Linked DNA regions of Homo sapiens. The protein of the gene in region 3 interacts with the protein of the main gene of each other region in a pairwise test. Each region holds a gene or a part of one and is shown on either strand. Other genes may lie near its edges. The genes, in order: TRIM35, PIAS1 and WFS1.

Region 1 (3,654 bases), on a different chromosome or scaffold from region 3:
ACACAAGGCACTAAATTATGCACTTTACAAACATTCTATTTAATTCAATTATTTAATTCGAATTCTCCCTATAAGGTTAAGCACTGTGAGTCCCATTATACAGAGGATCAAGTTAGACCCAGAGGAGGTAACCTTCTTGTACATGTCTCCTGGGGACACATGGGAACTCGTTTCTTCATAATATATTCCTGGGGATAAAACTGCTGGGCCACCATATGTGTCTTCACTTTACTGCGTAATGCCAAATTGTTTTCCAAAGCAGTGGTACCAATTTTTACAGCAAGAGCAATGTTAATAGAAAATGTTTATTGACCACTTCAATGTTTATTTTTAAGTACTCAGTAAAGTATTGTCCATTTTTCCATTGCGTTGCCTGCCATTTTCCTAACTGGTTTGTGGGAATTTATTATATATACACAATGTATGTCCTTGATTAGTTAGAGGTGTAATGAATATTTTCTACTTCATCATTTATCTTTCTTAATTGAAATATGGCCAAATTTATTAGTCTTTTCCTTTAGGATTAGTATACTAGTTTTAAGAAACACCTCCCTACACTGAGATCACAAAAACAATCGTATTATTTCCTCAAAGCTTTATAGCTTTGCATTATTATTGTATAGCTCTGTAGTATTTTCTCAAAGCTTTATAGCTTTCCTTTCACATTTAGGTCTGATGTGGATACCTGGAGTTTATTTTTGCACATGGTGTGACCAGGTAGCTCATTGTCTCAGCACCATTATTTAAAAAGACCATTACTGCCCACTGGTCTGCAGAGCCACCTCTGTCTTAAATCAGACACAGATCTGTTTTTTGGTTCTCTCCATCTGTTTCTCTGGCCCATCTGTTTATCCTTGTGCCAACATCACACAGCCATAATTTCTATAGCTGTAAAAAAGAGAGGATTTCTGATAGGTTTCTCTTCAAGAATGTCTTGGCAATTTTTGGCCCTTTGAGGGTCATATAAATTTTAGAATCTGTGAAGTTGCATAAAAATAATCATGTTGAGATTTAGATTAGTACAATATTGTCTCTATAGATCAATTTGGGGAAAACTGAAAGGCTTAAATACTGACTTTACTAATCCACGAACATAATATATCACACCAGTTACTTAATGTTCTTTGATAGCTCTCAACGAAGTATATTTTTCCCTATCAGAGTTTTGCGTATCTTTTATTAATTTCTTCCTAGTTATCTTATTTTTTATATTATTGTAAACATATTTTTAAATTAAAAAAACCCAAAACAGGGTCCCCCTCTGTCACCCAGGCTGCAGTGCAGTAGTAGCACAATCATAGCTCACTGCAGCCTCCTGTGCTCAAGTGATCCTCCCACCACCTCAGCCTCCCAAGTAGCTGGGACTACAAGCATGCACCACCACACCTGGCTAATTTGTTTTAACTTTTTGTAGAGACAGGCTGGACTATGTTGTGCAAGCTGGTCTGAAACTCCTTGGCTCAAACGATCCTCCTGCCTCAGCCTCCCAAAGTGCTGGGATTACAGGTGTAAAACTCCCTGCCTATATTTTATTTTCTATTTGCTAGTGATACATAGAAATACAACTGGTTTTGCATCTTGATTTTGGATTCAGCATTCACCTAAACTTATTAATACTTATGATTTAACTGTAGAATCTTTATTTTCTACACATAGAAATCTCAGTGCAAAAATATGCAACCATATTATCTACACATGCCAGTTTTGCTTCCCTTCTTTCCAAACCTTACATCTTTTATTTATAATTATTGGCTTACTTCATTGACAAGGCTATCCCACACAAAACTGAATAGAGTTGGTCATAATGCGCATTCCTGTCTTTTTCTTGATCTCAATAAGAAAGCTTTCAATGTTTTGCCATTAAATGTGATATTTGCTGTAAGTTTTTTTGCTAGATATACTTAATCAAACTAATGAAATTCCTTCCATTTCTAGTTTCCTGTTTTTTTAAACACAAAAAGATGGTAAATTTTATCAAATGTTTTCTCACTGAGATAATTATATTAAGCAACACAGAATTAGGTTTCGTTTTCTTATCCAGTCAGATCAACATTTTCATTTAACTGGAGTATTTAACACATAATTACCGATATGTTTGCATTTAAATCTGCCACCTTGTTCTGAGCTATTTGTCTTGCTTATTCTATTTTTCTTTTTCTTCCTTTCCTTTTTTAAAATTTACTACACATTTTTTATTCCATTTTCCCCTTCTGTGCATCTAGTGGTTCACCTAGGAAATATGACATGTAAGAAGTGTGAATTTGAATGCATCTAAACAATATTATTTTGTTTGCTTTTGGTATTAATTTTAACCCTAAATATGCTTAGATTACAAATAGAACTACCACTCAAGGGGCCTGCCTGTAGCCCAAGGAGCACATGAATGAGCAGAGATGGGCAGTAGCAGGGGCCCACAACAGATCTGGAGCATCCCCCAGCCCAAGCTCAGGAGAGCAAACAAGCTTCGATGTTAGCATCACATTATAACATTAAGATTTTTTATTTATTTATTTTATATTTTTTACTTTTTTGAGATAGAGTCTCATTCTTCTTGTCCAGGCTAGAGTGCAGTGGCGCAATCTCGGCTCACTGCAACCTCTGTCTCCCAGATTCAAGCAATTCTCTTGCCTCAGCCTCCCAAGTAGCTAGGATTACAAGTGCCTGCCGCCATGCCCAACTAATTTTTGTATTTTTAGTAGAGACAGGGTTTCACCATGTTGGCCAGGCTGGTCTTGAACTCCTGATCTCAGGTGATCCGCCCGCCTCGGCATCCCAAAATGCTGGGATTACAGGCATGAGCCACCGCGTCCAGCCTACGTTAAAGATTAGTTATAAACACACACAAAATAGGTTTTTATTCATACTAAAGGATCCAGAATGTGATCATATAGACTACATGATTTCCCAAAAATGACAAGTTGATTCCTTAAGCAACAAATTTCAATTGCATATTGAAGATCTTAAGCACTTTACAAAATCACGTTACCCACAATTTTCATTAACAGGACAGGTGCTCTGTGGTATAGCTGGAAGCAGGAAGGTAGGGGCAAGGGAAAGAATGAATTTCATTGCACAAGGTCTTCATAGCCTCTTTGCAAGGACTTACCAAAGTGCTAGAGTTGCATGTGAAACCAGCTCTGTCTGGCCTGAGCCAGGTTTTCTGTCTTGTGAGACTTGATACACACTGTTGCTCTGCCTGGTTCCCACCTGCTTCCCCCAACTAACCCAACATCACCTTGAAAACTCGGCTCTAGTACCCCTCATTTCCTCCAGGAAGCCCCCCGATCTTGCCAGCTCAGGTTCCATTCCAGGGCATCACAGCACCCTGGCCACCTCTGTCTCAGCACTCACTATCCAGGGTAATAGCTTCTCTTTCCTGAGGGCAGGTCTTAACCTCCAGGTCCTCTCTACCTTGCATAGTGGTGCTCGGTACACTTCTGCAGAAGGAATGCTTGCTCTGCAAGGTGAGAGACTTTGTTTTGTCCCCTGCATGTCCAAGTCCCTGCACAAAGTAGATGTTCAGTTAACCACCTGCCCAGTCAATGAGTACATGGAATGCCTGTGTTTTTTCTGCTATATACCTTGCCTCCTGGACTGAAGGTTAGGAGAGCTGGTTTGGAGCCTTGTCTTTGTCACTATCCACTGGTGAGTTGG
Region 2 (3,654 bases), on a different chromosome or scaffold from region 3:
GAAAATATTAGTTCACTGAGTTATGCAGTTCTTCCAAATGTTGACATATTTCACTATGCAACTTCAACATAACACATTCATTAATATCACACTGATCTTATCAAAAAAGTCAAGTATTGGGAAACTGTCAAGCTCACAGTGGCAAATACATGTCTTCCAAAGTTCTATTTTCATTTGAAAGCTTAAATTTTATCATTAGTAACAAATATTGTCAGTTGTTTTCCCTGTAGTGACAGGCACACTTTGTTTATTTTCATGAAAATGTATGCCAAATACCCTAGTCTGTATAACCATACTTTGCCAGCCATTTTTTCAAGTAAAAATGGTATTCCATTTAAAAAGCTCACAACTCAACTGCACAAGTTCTTTTCCTTGAGTTAACCATCAGATTTGATATTCAATAAAAGTGTTTTACAGGTACTTTTCATTTCATCATACAAAATATATTTTTAAATGTACTCAAGGATTGAGATACAATAAAATTAGTAAGTTTTATTGCTTCATCAAGGACATAAAGTTTAACTGGCATTTTTTTTTTTAATTCCAAGTGCACAGTGATGAAGAACACAACTACTAGTACAATTTAGTACCAATGCCTTAATTTGTGCCAAGGTGCTGGCAGTTTTACCCACCACTGATTTTGCAAATGTCAGCACGTAAATAATGCCTATTATTAGGAAAATCATTTTGACCTGGAGAACCCTCAGAAAAACTTCGGGGAACCACCAGAGGCCTGAGAAATAGACTTTGAAAACCTCTGTAAGAACTGATGCATTACTTGTATAATTTTTAAAAAGATAATTTTTAGTAAACATTCCGCTATAACAGAAATATTTAAATAAATATACACACATATGTGATAATATATTAAAATCACCAATAACCTGGTACCTCATACACAGCAGATACCCAAAAATATAATAAATAACAGAATGTGATAAATAATTCTTTAATAAATAACAATTACTGAGAATCTACTATAAGCCAGTTTCTGAGCCAGTTCTGTGCCTCTTCAGTCCCCTTCTTGGGTAACTTACAGAAGCCCATAGACCAGAATGATGATTTTAACATATGAGAAAAAATATTTACTCTGAAATCTTTCCAATCTTTAAGATTAGACTTGCATGACTGCAAGAAAAAGTCTTAAAATTCACCATAAAGCACAAGATAGCATGTTAAGTTCTATTTTAAGCACTATGCCATGAGCTTTTTTAAAAACAGGCTTGCTCACATTCAGAAACCCAAATACAAAATGAATTGCTTTGGCTGAGCACTGCCAGAACTGCATAAAGACCCTGCATTCCATTTCTCCTCAAGCTATACAACCCTTACCTGTGATGTTTTCATTCCTATTGTTAAGTGAAACTCCAGCATTAATACTACAGAGGTTACATTAAATGTGGCAATTATTTTTTTAAAAAAACCAGTAGTGTATAGCAAAACCATCAAAACAAGTTGTTAAGAACTTTTAACCATATACACTGATAAATTCAAGAGGTAAATCTCTATAAACATACATAGGAAATATTACACACTGTTAAAAAGAATGAGACCATCTCATTGTCTGGACATGTCATGGAAAGATCTTCACTATCTATTGTAAAAAAAAGCAAACTGTAGGATGCTACATATGGTATGGTCTCACAGTTTTAGAAAAGATATTTATGTACATGTACATTCACTTAAGTTCCTTCTATGTGCCTAGTTTTGTTCTCATCTAGACATACACACACACAATAAATTAAAAATATTATACAGACATACACATTTAAATGCCCATGCAGAGAAAAAAATGAATACAAGACCAGACACAAAAAGTGACATATTTTTATTCCATTTATATTAAATGCCCAAAATAGGCAAGTCTACAGAGACTCAAAATAGATTATCAGTCGCCTAGGGCTAAGAGTGAGGTAAGGTTTGGGAAGGGGATGATGCTAAAAGGATGTAGGGTTGCTTTTCGAGGTGAAAAAATATTCTAGAACTGATTGTGGTTAATGGTTACACAACTTTGTGAATATACCAAAAACTACCTGACTGTGCACTTTAACGAGGTGAACTGTAATGGGATATGTTAATTTTATCTCAATAAAGCTGTCACCTCCCCCTGCCCACCCAAATAAGAATACACAGATATACACCAAAATGATTCCCTCTAAGAATGAAGATGATGAGGTCTTTCCATTTTTACCCTATTTACTGTTAGATCATTACAATGAGAAGTGTAGTCACTTATTATCTCTATAACTTAAAATAATGTAAAAGGTAAATCTAAAACAGCCCTTGATAAATTATTCTGGATTTAATGTTATTCAAGTTCATCTAAGCAGCAGCAAGAAAAAAGAGCGAAGATATGACCCTAAAAATATTTTCAATTTAGATTGTCTTATAGACAAGAGTATCAGGCCCCAGTCTCTGACAGAAACAAATCTTAAACATAATTTGTTCATCTGACACATGTATATTAAAAACACCTATTGTGTCCACAGGGTAGGGATGGGAGAATGGGGGGTGTACAAACAGAACACCAGCCAACAAAAAGACGCAAACTAACAGCTCTGGCTTTAAGTTAAGGGCTTTTGCTATACAGCTGAAGAGACAAAACACACACACAAAGTGGAATGGGGCCAGACAATAGAAAATCTTGAATACTAGACTGAGAACTAAGTCTTTATCCAGTTTTCGATAGAAAGCCATTCAAAGTTTTTATAGATAGGAGTGACAGAATGAAAGGAGTGTTTTGGTGAAATTAACCCGGCAACCAAAGCGGGTAAACTGAAAGCAGTGAATAGCAAAAAAGGTAAAAAAGAGATTAAGTTTTCAAAAATAGGAACGTTTACAACAGTCCTATGAGAGTTACTGATATCTCCATCATTAGTTAATATTCAAAGGATTTATGTTTGTTTTGTTTGCTTGATCTAAAGAAAAGCTGAAAAATAAAAAGGTGGTTTCTTCATTTTGACGAATTTTAGAAGTTCATAGCTAAGAATGAAGACTTACCAGAAAACTCTGAAGGAAGGGTTCTAGGGAATTTTCTTTTCATGTGACACTACTGAAACCAAGAGTAGAGGGAATCAAAAGTAACAGGAGTTGCACAATTTTTAACATGGAAGGGGAAATATAGTCATAAACATCTAGCAAAAAGTGCAGTGGCAATTAATACTACTTCTGAAATTGATGGTTAAAGACAACTAAGTACTTTAAAATTGTCTCTACTGCCTATTTCAAAGAAATCCTAATGATAAAACGTTACATAAATACAGATTTAGGTGAAGACCAAAGTCGAACGAATCAAATTTAGAGTACGATCAATTTCAAGTTCCTTCTACATGCACTACTTTTCAGATGTTGCACAAATAGCATTCTTAATTCACATATGCATTTATTAATTGGTTTAACTCATAAAGGTTTTTTCTAAAAATAAAAATGCTTTCATTGCCTATGTTATCTTTCTAAAACCAGATCCTGGGCCAGGCACGGTGGCTCACGCCTACAATCCCAGAACTTTGGGAGGCCAAGGCGGGCAGATTACGAGGTCAAGAGATAGAGACCAACCTGGCCAACATGGTGAAACCCTGTCTCTACTAAAAATACAAAAATTAGCTGGGCGCAGTGGCGCATGCCTGTAATCCCAGCTACTCGGGAGGCTGAGGC
Region 3 (3,654 bases):
CACCCAACAATGAGCCGTGTGGGCCGCCTGAGCCCCCTCCAGGTCATTCCAACTGCTCTGGAATCAGCAGGCTGGGTTGGTGAGAAATTCTGGCTAACAATGCCACTGTTAGTTTTTCAAAATCATCAGTTTAATTTTCAAAGAGAAGACTCTGTATAATAAATGTAACTCTTAAAATATGATACAAGCTGGGCATGGTGGCTCACGCCTGTACTCTCATCACTTTGGGAGGCCAAGGAGGGTGGATCCCCTGAGGTCAGGAGTTTGTGACCAGCCTGGCCAACCTGATGAAACCCTGTCTCTGCTAAAAATACAAAAATTAGCTAGGTGTGGTAATGCACGCCTGTAATCTCAGCTACTCAAAAGGCTGAGGCAGGAGAATTGCTTGAACCAGGGAGGTGGAGGTTACAGTGACTTGAGATCGCACCCCTGCACTCTAGCCTGGGCGACAGAGTGAGACTCCATCTCAAAACAACAACAACAAACACAGAAGGAAATACACCAAAATATGGGGAGTTGCTTCTGGGCTTCAAGGTTATGAGTAATTTGTATCTTTATGTTTTCTACATAGTCCAAGTTTTCTATGATAAGCATAAAATACTCTTACAATCTGAAAAAAAAGGTATCATTAGAAAAAACACCTTTGTGACACCCACTTTCATCTTTCCCTGAGGCGTGGAACCTTCAGGAAGCACACTGCCCCACGGCACCAGGGACAGCCACTTCCCTTGCGCAGGACAACGTCCTAACTCACCACCCCTGGCCTGAGCTGCGTCCCTTTCCTCCCCTGCCTCTCTGTTTGAAAGAGATTATCTATGAAGGGTCAGCCTGCCTCCTCCCAAAGTGAACATGCTTGTCCAGGTCTGTGTGGGCCCACAGCCCCTCAGCTGGTCTGCCCAGACTCGACGGACATCAGCTCAGGGGCATGGGCCACTCTGACTGCAGGCCACATTACAGTCTCCAGCTTTGCCTCAGGGAAACTGCCTCTCAGCTGAACCCAGGATCGATGTCTCAGTTTGGATCAGAACCCAGCAGGGAAGCAGGATGTATAGTTACCACTTGGAGATACCAACACAAGCCAAAGAGAATGAAAATGGCTTGGTCTGTTAAATATCCCATGTTAAGTCCAGAAACAGTGTCTAAAATGAGAAGGCCACCAGCAAAACAGAAACTGAAATTTCCCAACAGCATCACCAGCGTTAGGTTTGGTAAGATTTTAGTTGTTCAGTTAGCAAGCAGCATTACAAGCTGCTCAACCCTCCAGAGGCTGTTCTAAGCCTCACACAGACCCACCTCTTCTGTCCGCCAAGCACCGGCGAAGCAGCTTCACAGCCTCGCGACGGCCCTGCTTCGCGGCGAGGACCAGCCAGTCCACAGCGGTGCAGCTGTTGAGTTCTTCATCCGTGTCGCCGGCCAACTGCAGGTAGTGCTTCCCCACCTGCAAGCCAGACACCAGTCAGCCTCCAGATTCTCCGACCCTCTCCCACCCCATGCTCCCTGCCAGCCCACCTCCTTTCACCCACTTCCCTTTGTCACCCAGGCCAGGAAGGAAGGGGCAGAAATGGGGTCACACCAGGCATGTCCACTAGGCTAGGCCCTACTGAGCCTCCGGCCACTCGCTCCTCAAAACACGGTGAGGAAGGTGTGGCCACCCCATCCACACGGCGAGGGAGACACGGGCTCCGACTGGTACTGGTACAGGTTCTCTTCCTTGAGTTGCTCCTGCCTGCCAAGGCTCACCATCAATGCATGGAAATCAGAACCATGACTGGGTCCTTTACACCTCTCAAAACAGTCAGGGGACCATAGAAAGCCAGGGCTGGAGAGACGCCAGCTAACCAAGGGTTAGCACTGGCCCACTGCCTGTTTTTGCAAATAAAGTTTTATTGAAATACAACCATAACCATTCATTTACATGTTGTCCATGCTGCTTTTACGTGCTCCACAGCAAAGCTGAGCAACACGGCAGAGATTGCGCAGAGTCCAGAATATTCACTATCTGGCCCTTTGCAAAAAGAATCCCTGCTGAAATGGTCCAGTCTTCTCATTCTACAGATGGAAAAAGTGAGGCCCAGGGCACAGAGAGCCCATAAAAGGGCTTACTATGCTCCCCCCGCCTCCAAATGCCTGGGCAAAAGGATGTGGGAGGAACTTTAAAGTACAATATGGCTGTGAGGTCAGGAAAGAAATTTTTTTTTTTTTTTTTTTGAGACAGAGTCTTGCTCTGTTGCTCAGTTGGGAGCGTGGTGGTGCGATCTCGGCTCACTGCAACCTCCACTTCCTGGGTTCAAGTGATTTTCCTGTCTCAGCCTCCCAAGTAGCTGGGATTACAGGCATGCACCACCATGTCTGGCTAATTTTTCTATTTGTAGTGGAGACACGGTTTCATCATGTTGGCCAGGCTGGTCACGAACTCCTGACCTCAGGTGATCCACCCGCCTCAGCCTCCCAAAGTGCTGGGATTACAGGCGTGAGCCACCGCTCCCAGCCAGAAATTCTTAATTTATGGTTTCGCGTGGAAGCTTTTCTCCTCTTTAGGGAGAAGAGGGGGCAGGAAACTGCTCAGGATAACTGTGGTCACTTGCTTGAGCCCTGTGCAAGGGGACAGAGTGAGGTGGTGAGAACTTGCCTCCACAGAGGACACAGGACCCCCTGCCACCTCCCGTCTCAGCGTTCTGCTGGCTTCTCCCCTCACCAGAATTCAAAATCACTGTATTTCTGTGTCTTGTCTACTTGGGTTTTTTGGGTCTGCTTCTTCCACTAACCTGTCACCCATGAAGAGAGGGCCACATCATGTCCCCAGCACTGGCACAAAGCCCAGCCCTTGGCTGATGCCCAAGTGAATGGTCACCGCTCTGAGGGCCCCGTGCACACAGCTAACAGCCAGGTGAAAGGCCAGTCAGGGAGACAAGAGTGGGCAGCATACACAGTGTATGTTGAGGGGTGGCACTGAGCAGGCAGCTGCAGGAAGCCAGGAGGTCATCCTGGAGGAGGTGATGCCCAAGATGAGGTGTGAGTTGGACAAAAGGGGGATGAGCGCTGCTCCCCAGAGGAGTGCCAGGAGGAAAACTGGCACAGTGAACATGGGCACCCTACCAACATGGGGCTCAAGTGGGGTAGGGTGCACCACGCTGGCTCCTGACCCCGATCTCAGGCACCGACACTTCTCTGTGGGCTGTGGAGCTCGTGGCCAGGCCTGTTGTGCCGGGGGCCGCGTCCCGAAGTCCCTGCCGGCACCGCAGTCCTCACCTCAGTCTGTGCCTTGGGGTCCCCGGCCTTGGCCCTCTCCAGGACTTCTTCAAAGGGGATTTCCATGTCTCCCTTTGTAGGCCCTTTAACACAGAAGAAACAAACACACATGTCACAAAGCCAGACTTTGTCACTTGTCAGGATGGAGGGGACAAGGCATGAGGGTCTTCAGATCTGCTGCTGCTTGTCACTTTCAAATCCAGGCCAGGAGTACAGAGAGACACAGACACAGACAGGGAAGATGCCCAGAAAGCCACTGTTTGCCTTCCGGTCACAAGCAGCGCCAGAGCAAGATGAGCAAACTCTATGCGGGTGAGGTGGTTCAACAGCAACTCAAAGCGCTCGGGGTGGGAGGCATGGGAAGGAGGCGAGCACAGAGCCAAGTCCCACCATCACACCCCTTGG

The links.
Region 1: the proteins of WFS1 (region 3) and TRIM35 interact in binary tests that used the Homo sapiens proteins (3 or more experiments, as listed by UniProt).
Region 2: the proteins of WFS1 (region 3) and PIAS1 interact in binary tests that used the Homo sapiens proteins (3 or more experiments, as listed by UniProt).

The regions. Positions count from the first base shown.
Region 1 is NC_000008.11:27,301,180-27,304,833, forward strand, and holds part of TRIM35 (E3 ubiquitin-protein ligase TRIM35), read right to left. Parts: exon of another isoform or gene 3,582-3,654; intron 1-3,581. UniProt on the Homo sapiens protein: E3 ubiquitin-protein ligase that participates in multiple biological processes including cell death, glucose metabolism, and in particular, the innate immune response.
Region 2 is NC_000015.10:68,060,796-68,064,449, reverse strand, and holds part of PIAS1 (E3 SUMO-protein ligase PIAS1), read right to left. Parts: intron 1-3,654. UniProt on the Homo sapiens protein: Functions as an E3-type small ubiquitin-like modifier (SUMO) ligase, stabilizing the interaction between UBE2I and the substrate, and as a SUMO-tethering factor. Catalyzes sumoylation of various proteins, such as CEBPB, MRE11, MTA1, PTK2 and PML.
Region 3 is NC_000004.12:6,286,771-6,290,424, reverse strand, and holds part of WFS1 (wolframin), read right to left. Parts: intron 3,333-3,654; coding exon 3,250-3,332; intron 1,439-3,249; coding exon 1,294-1,438; intron 1-1,293. UniProt on the Homo sapiens protein: Participates in the regulation of cellular Ca(2+) homeostasis, at least partly, by modulating the filling state of the endoplasmic reticulum Ca(2+) store.